Homo sapiens: one gene and its partner. The protein of the gene in region 2 purifies or fractionates together with the protein of the main gene of each other region. This does not show direct contact. Each region holds a gene or a part of one and is shown on either strand. Other genes may lie near its edges. The genes, in order: EIF3M and GSTA5.

Region 1 (3,299 bases), on a different chromosome or scaffold from region 2:
AGTCACAGTGCCTGGCCCAGTATTCCTTTTGAAGAGAAAATTTTATCTGGGAATCTCTCAAAAACATCAAAGATTGTTTTGCATGAAATTAACTCGAATTAATTTTTGGTAGGGATAAACTGGAAACAAACATTCAGTAGTAGGAGATATATCAAACATCCATAAAAGGGAGTATTTTGCAGCCATAGACAATTGTTTTTAATGACCTAAGAAACTGCTCACAGAGGAAAATACATAAAATTCTATAGAATGATCAAATAGGCTAAAAATAGAAAAAAACGCTAGCAGCAAATAATACCAAAATGTCAACAAGCCTCTCTGGATAAGGGATTACTAATGATTTTTAGTTTCTTTCTACTTTACTCTATTTTCTAAATTTCCAGTAAGTATTTTAACATCAGAAAAGAACCTTAAAATGAAAAAGTTATTTAACACACTATTTTTAAAATTACCCAATACAGTGTCTTGAAAACATGCCAACTTCCAAATATCTCACTGCCCTTCCTGTTTCTTCAACAATGGTGTTCTGAAGCATGGGAGGAAACATGAAGTAGTAAAAGGCAGTTTTTGTACACTTTACTTCAGTTATATATTAGAGATTTTGAAGATCTACTACATAAGCCTACACATTCACATTGTATACTTTTCTGGTGCCAGAACTACTAAGGTAGTGGAAATCAGCCAAGAGATGGTGGTTTTACCACATACTCATAACTGCAGAGGCTTTACAGACTCTTTAAAATCTTTTGTATAATAATTTCGAAGGTAAAATTAGTTTATCTTTCCCAGGTGAAAACAAAGCCTCTGATATCAACTCCACTACAAAGCCATTTGCAGGCAATCAAGACGACTAAAAATACTTCTGGTGATGATGACTGGCAGAGCCTCATTACGAATCAACTAAATAAAAGTGAAAATTTACTAAGTTTAGAAAATGACAACCAGCCAAAGAAAAGAAAAGCAGAAGAGACGTTGGAAAAAAACAACAGATTAAAATAATGTAGATAAGTGCTTTCAGTAGTGAAATTATGTAACTGAAATTCTGGTATAGTTTTTACTAGAATAAAATGACTGTTGTATTTAAAGCTCTACAGTTTGTCTTTGCTTTTCCAAGTTTTTCTAATGTGAAGAAATTGTATTACTCTACTTCTGTCTTCTCTCTGTATATTATCCTTTCTTTAAAGTGCTCATTGCTTCTTCAATATCCTTTTTTAAAGAACAGAATTTATGTATTGTATGACAGACATTGTGACCCCTTGTAATTTATTACTTCATATCCTCTGGAGTTTGTGATTTTAGTATAAATTTGAGACAATAACTGTCCAGACTAGGCAAATTTTTTTAGTTTATAATGTTTTACTATGATTTAGGGCTTTTTTTTCAAAGAACAAAAATTATAAGCATAAAAACTCAGGTATCAGAAAGACTCAAAAGGCTGTTTTTCACTTTGTTCAGATTTTGTTTCCAGGCATTAAGTGTGTCATACAGTTGTTGCCACTGCTGTTTTCCAAATGTCCGATGTGTGCTATGACTAAAAATTGAAAAATTAAACACAGTGTTAGTCAACCTTTTAGCCTCTGGTATTCTTTTATAATACTACAGATTTGAATCCAGTTAAAAGCAAGATTAAATATACCTAATTTAGAATAGTAAGAGAATTTAAGAATTACATAATTATTTAAAAAAAATCTTTACCATATTGATCCTAAGCCTTCTAATTCTCCTGAGCAACTATATAAAGCAGACATAAAAGTCATTAGTATTCTAGCCAATGCTCAGCCATTAAATGAAATGTGCTGGAAAATAGGACTCTTTCATTAAATAAGCTAATCACATTCAGTCTGAACTTTAATAAAATTATGATAAATAGCAACTATTTAACTACAGTCAAGTGATAACACCACCTTGGTTCTCTAAACATTTAAGTGAAATAATCGGAACAAACTAAATCGTTCTATAAAATGCTGCAAAGCATTAAATATCTTACCTGACAACTACTTTTCTCTGGGTCTGATCAATTTTGCAGTAGACCATTTTAGTTCTTACGGCTGAAAAAAGATGTTTTATATCGTATGTTATATGGAAAATTTCCAAGAAAAATAGCTAAGGTATGAAAACTGTGACCAAGTAAGCCATAATAAAACTTTATACTGTTTTCCAACATTATACACTGTTTAAATCTAATAAGCAAAACAGTATGGGGCAACCAAAAGAAAGGTCATGCATTTGTCCTATGGCTGCTGGGACAATCTATATTAAATAAATACTGCATACAGTTTTTTGCTGTTTTTTTTTTTTTTTTTTTTTTAAAGAATGCTAGGTGTTCTTCCCCTACCATCTCATATAGGGGAATAAACTAATTTCCTACTAAGTTATTACTTCTTCATAGAAAACTTAGAGCATTAGGGGAAAAAAGGTCAATAGTTCTGTACCTTTTATTAATCTTAATTGCATAATCCCAACTTTCAAATTTAAAAAGCTCAGAAAAAATTCCTGAGCAGTTAAGTTGCTTTATAATCTAATTGTTGGGGAAGAAGTTCTTGTTTCTAGGCTAATCATAAAAAAACTGGTAATGGTTAACACTTGAAAGATCACTTACTATGTGCCAGGCACTGTGCTTTACCTGTATTAATTCATTTAATTCTTACAACCACAAATGAACCCCTACATTCCTGTTTCACAAAGGAAGGGCCTGGTCTTAAATCCACATCTAATACTAAAATCTGTGCTCTTAACCACAGTGGTGTATTGCCTAAACGTCTTTGTTCTACGTGATTTCAAGGGATAGAATATAGCAGTTTATATTTCTACTAAATTTTCACCCTACAACAAATATATCCACTAATCTACTAAATACACATCTGCTATAAACAAATCTTTGTTGTGTAAGGCTCAGTTTCCAGATAAAAATCTTACTATGATCCATGTAGTAGATGAGAAATTCTAGAAATAAATGAAAATGTTCTGTCTGCCTTACCGTCAATAACAAATGCTTCAACATCATCAGCTCCAATCTGAAGTTCTTGCTGCATTGTGTCAAAAGAAATTTCCTTATTTTCTACTGCCATTCCCATAAAAGTAAGTAGTCTCATTTTTGCCATATTCTGTTCATGTAACAGGCCTAGAAAACAGAATAGTGAAGCCTGATGAGTGTTCATACTAATTAAAGACCTGCACAATTACATCTCATGTTAAGCTGTGGAAATTATTTTTACTTTTGTAATTGTGGAAATTATTGTTTGAGCACTTATATAGAACAATTTTGACAAAGCTTCTTATATTTGCAAACTATAAACTGA
Region 2 (3,565 bases):
TATAAAAACCTAAGAAAATAGAGGGTCAGATGGTGGCAAAGTAATTCACCTCCAGTTAGTGCCTTTTATACGCTAGTCATTATGCTCTGAGTTTTACAGGTATATAGTCATTATGTTCTGATTTTTACAGGTATATTAACATTTATTTCCTAAAACAACCTATCAAGGTAGATAGATCTCAAAATTTTGTTACACACATGACCTAATACAGGAAAAAGAGCATCGGTGGTCACAGTCATGAGAGAAATTGGTGGAATCACTGCCAATACCCACTGATGCTGTGCCAGGATTTATCATCTCAATTGTGGCTTGTTCTGTGCATGAACTTAGTGTGAGTCAAATGGCCAAAGAGCTGCCCTCTAAGTAATCCTAAAAGAATCCCTGGCACAGCCATCTCAGCCATATTTCTTGTCCTCTCTCATCATTTTACAGCTCCCAGGGCTCCTGTGCCCCATATTAGCAGTTCTTCCAATTACACCCATGAAACACATTTCCACAGCCCTCTCCATGTGCTGTTGCCTAACTCTAGCCATGTGTGCCTTTCCTGAGACCCCACCTAAGAATCCCCTTCCCCGGTGAAATTCTCTATACAATTACAACCAGTGCAAACTTTTCTTCTTTTGTGTCAAACTAGAGTTTCACAATACTTTTTAAAACAAGACCTTTATTGACGTATGTTCACGTACTGTAATTGCAACCTGTTAAATTACACTATTGAGTGGTTTTTGGTGGATTCACAGAATTCTGTAAAAATCATCACAGTCTAATTCCAGAATTATTCTTATCACCCTGATAAGGACATCTGTACCATTAGCGGTATTCTTCATTTATCTCCAAGCCCCACTCCTTTACCTCCAGGCAACCACTAATCTACTTGCTACCTCTATGGATTTGAATATCTGGACATTTCATACAAAAAGAATCCTATAATACTTGGCCTTCTGTGTCTTGTGTATTTTATGTAACATGTCTTTATTGTTTAACCATCTTGTAGCATGCATTGGTACTTCATTCCTTTTCATGACCAAATATCTTTCCATTGCATGGCTAAGGCATTTTTTCTCCTCCATTTATTGATTGATGGATATTTGGGTTGTTTCCACTTTTTGAATACTATGAATATTGTTATTTGCATTGTTCATTTCTGTAAAAAATTTAGTGTGGATGTATTTTTGATTGTTTGGGGATATGCCTACTAGAGCAACTGCTGGGTCATTGGTAATACTATGTTAAAGTTTTTGTGGAGCTGCCAACAGTTCCATTCAGGATTTATTTGTAATTATGCAGTCTCATCACAACAGAGAGGAGACCCCTTGGCTTTGTTGGTATTGAATCAATCTGGCTGTTTCAGCCTTCTATCCATGTGTCAAGGTAACCCCAGCATCCTGGGCACCAGCCTCTACTAGCCCTGCTCAAGTGTTCTGGCCCATATAATTGGTTGGTAATTTAGGTTCCTGGTCATGATTCTTGGAATTACTGGGACCTGAGATTCAGCTTGTTTACAGCCTTCCCTCCCCAGGCCTTCATCTACAGACTCTCAGACATTCTATGCCTTGCCCTACGCTGTTGGCTGGAGTCTAGCCTCTGAAGTTCTGAGTACCTGAATCATGATTCCCCATCCTCCTCAGTTCATAGGGTTTATGAGTGTCTGGAAACCTCAGTCAGGTTGCAGGATCCATGGACTGCATCCTCTTTTAGAATCACCCTTGCCTGAACCCTCCCCATGTTCACTGTTCCCTCATCTCCATGGGACTCTGCAATACTGGACCTCAGCGTGCATCCTCAAGACCCAGCCTGCTGCTGGTCATGATGCCCTGCCATGGTCCCACCCACTCAAAGAAGGACTTAAATCACTCTGTGTTCTCTGTGGATGGAAGAACAGAAAATATACCATACAGGGCTCTCTCCTTCATGTCTTTCCCATAAAGGTTGTATTTGCTGGCAATGTAGTTAAGAATGGCTCTGGTCTGCACCAGCTTCATCCCGTCAATCTCAACCATTGGTACTTGCTGGAACAGCAAACTCCCATCTTAGAAAGAAGAAAAAAAAAGGAGTATGAAGTGTCTATGAAACCCACCCTTTTGGGATGAAAAAAATGGTTATGGAAATGACTAAATTTGTGAAATGAAAAAGAAATTATTGCCTGTTAAGTTTTCACTTGAAACAACTTTTTTCCTTGTTTTGTTTTTTGAGACAGAGTCTCACTCTGTCACCCAGGCTGGAGTGCAGTGGGACGATCTCAGCTCACTGTAACCTCTGCCTCCTGGGTTCAAGCAATTCTCCTACCTCAGCCTCCTGAGTAGCTGGGATTACAGGCATGTGCCAACATACCCAGCTAATTTTTGTATTTTTAGTAGAGACGTGATCTCATCATGTTGGCCAAACTGGTCTCGAACTCCTGACCTCAAATGATCCACCCGCCTCAGCCTCTCGAAGAGCTGGGATTACAGGTGTGAGCCACCATACCCGGCCCAAACAACATTTTTTAAAAGTTTCCTGTAGTTCTTCTTTTTCTTAAGCAGCTTCCTTCTACTTTTTATCCTGTTACTTCATTTTTGTTTTTATTTCCCCTCCAGATACATAGCAGGACTCTTGTATTTTTTGTGTTGATTTATCTTCATGGATGTTTTAGGAAGAGGTTGGGACAAGTTACAATAGGACTGGCAACAGGTGCCATTTAAAATGGGAAGTTCTCAGGGTAAGTCTCATGGTGTTTGCGACATCTAAGGCAGGTTCTGAGAGGTTTTTAATATAAGGGTCCCCTTTTCTGCTCTTCAAAGCCTGCAATAGTGCCACAGTGTTACTTTGTCACGCCCCCCCATGAAAGAAAAACCTCAAGGCAATGGCCACGTCGATTTTTCCTCCTTTCATCTAGCGCATGTTCTTGCGTGTGCTTGGATGGGGAGGGCTCTATGGGATCCTGTGCTGATAACCACAGCTCACTGACGGTCCCCCAAGCATGAAAACAGAAAAAGGGCTTTCCCCGGGGGCGGGATATCATTCCTCTAACAAATACTCTGAGAGGTCTGGTCCTTTTAGCTTGGAGAGAGTTGCCAGACCTGATCAAGGAGCCACATCCCTTCCATTTTAACCACTTTCTCCCTCTCCACCGTGACTAAATATCACCCCCCACACACATAGGTATTCCTGGCTGCTCAACGTTCCTCTGTACCTTCTACTAGAAACTCTCATCAGAGTTACTTAGAGATTGATCTTACCATTTCTTAACTTGTCCAAATCTTCTGCAGATTCTAGAAATTTCTCTTCCAACTGGAAGCAGAAACAGTAAATGGGTTCTTCTTAGTTAATTCTATTATAGACTTGTGATGTTGAATGGCCCCTATCTGGTGCATGATTTGGAGAATATAAGATTTCTGAGTTTCGCAGGATATACAGAGGGGGCTGGTAATGGCCATTTGGAAGTTTAGACCTAATTCATTGAGAAAAGTGCATGGGTCACAGCACATAGCTGCTCAATCTTTTAGTTCACTGCCACCCTGTTCTGATGAATGTCTATGATTAGGTCATATTTTGAGAGGGGACATCACTGGAAAGAAGGCACTGA

Evidence for each region.
Region 1: the proteins of GSTA5 (region 2) and EIF3M purify together in Homo sapiens (affinity purification with mass spectrometry; one large-scale study listed by BioGRID and IntAct). This does not show direct contact.

Annotation. Positions count from the first base shown.
Region 1 is NC_000011.10:32,600,511-32,603,809, reverse strand, and holds part of EIF3M (eukaryotic translation initiation factor 3 subunit M), read right to left. Parts: intron 3,122-3,299; coding exon 2,978-3,121; intron 2,049-2,977; coding exon 1,988-2,048; intron 1,532-1,987; coding exon 1,411-1,531; 3' UTR 1,000-1,410; coding exon of another isoform or gene 790-999; 3' UTR 1-789. Other genes in the region: CCDC73 (coiled-coil domain-containing protein 73), read left to right, coding at 790-999. UniProt on the Homo sapiens protein: Component of the eukaryotic translation initiation factor 3 (eIF-3) complex, which is required for several steps in the initiation of protein synthesis.
Region 2 is NC_000006.12:52,834,340-52,837,904, forward strand, and holds part of GSTA5 (glutathione S-transferase A5), read right to left. Parts: intron 3,271-3,565; coding exon 3,219-3,270; intron 2,030-3,218; coding exon 1,897-2,029; intron 1-1,896.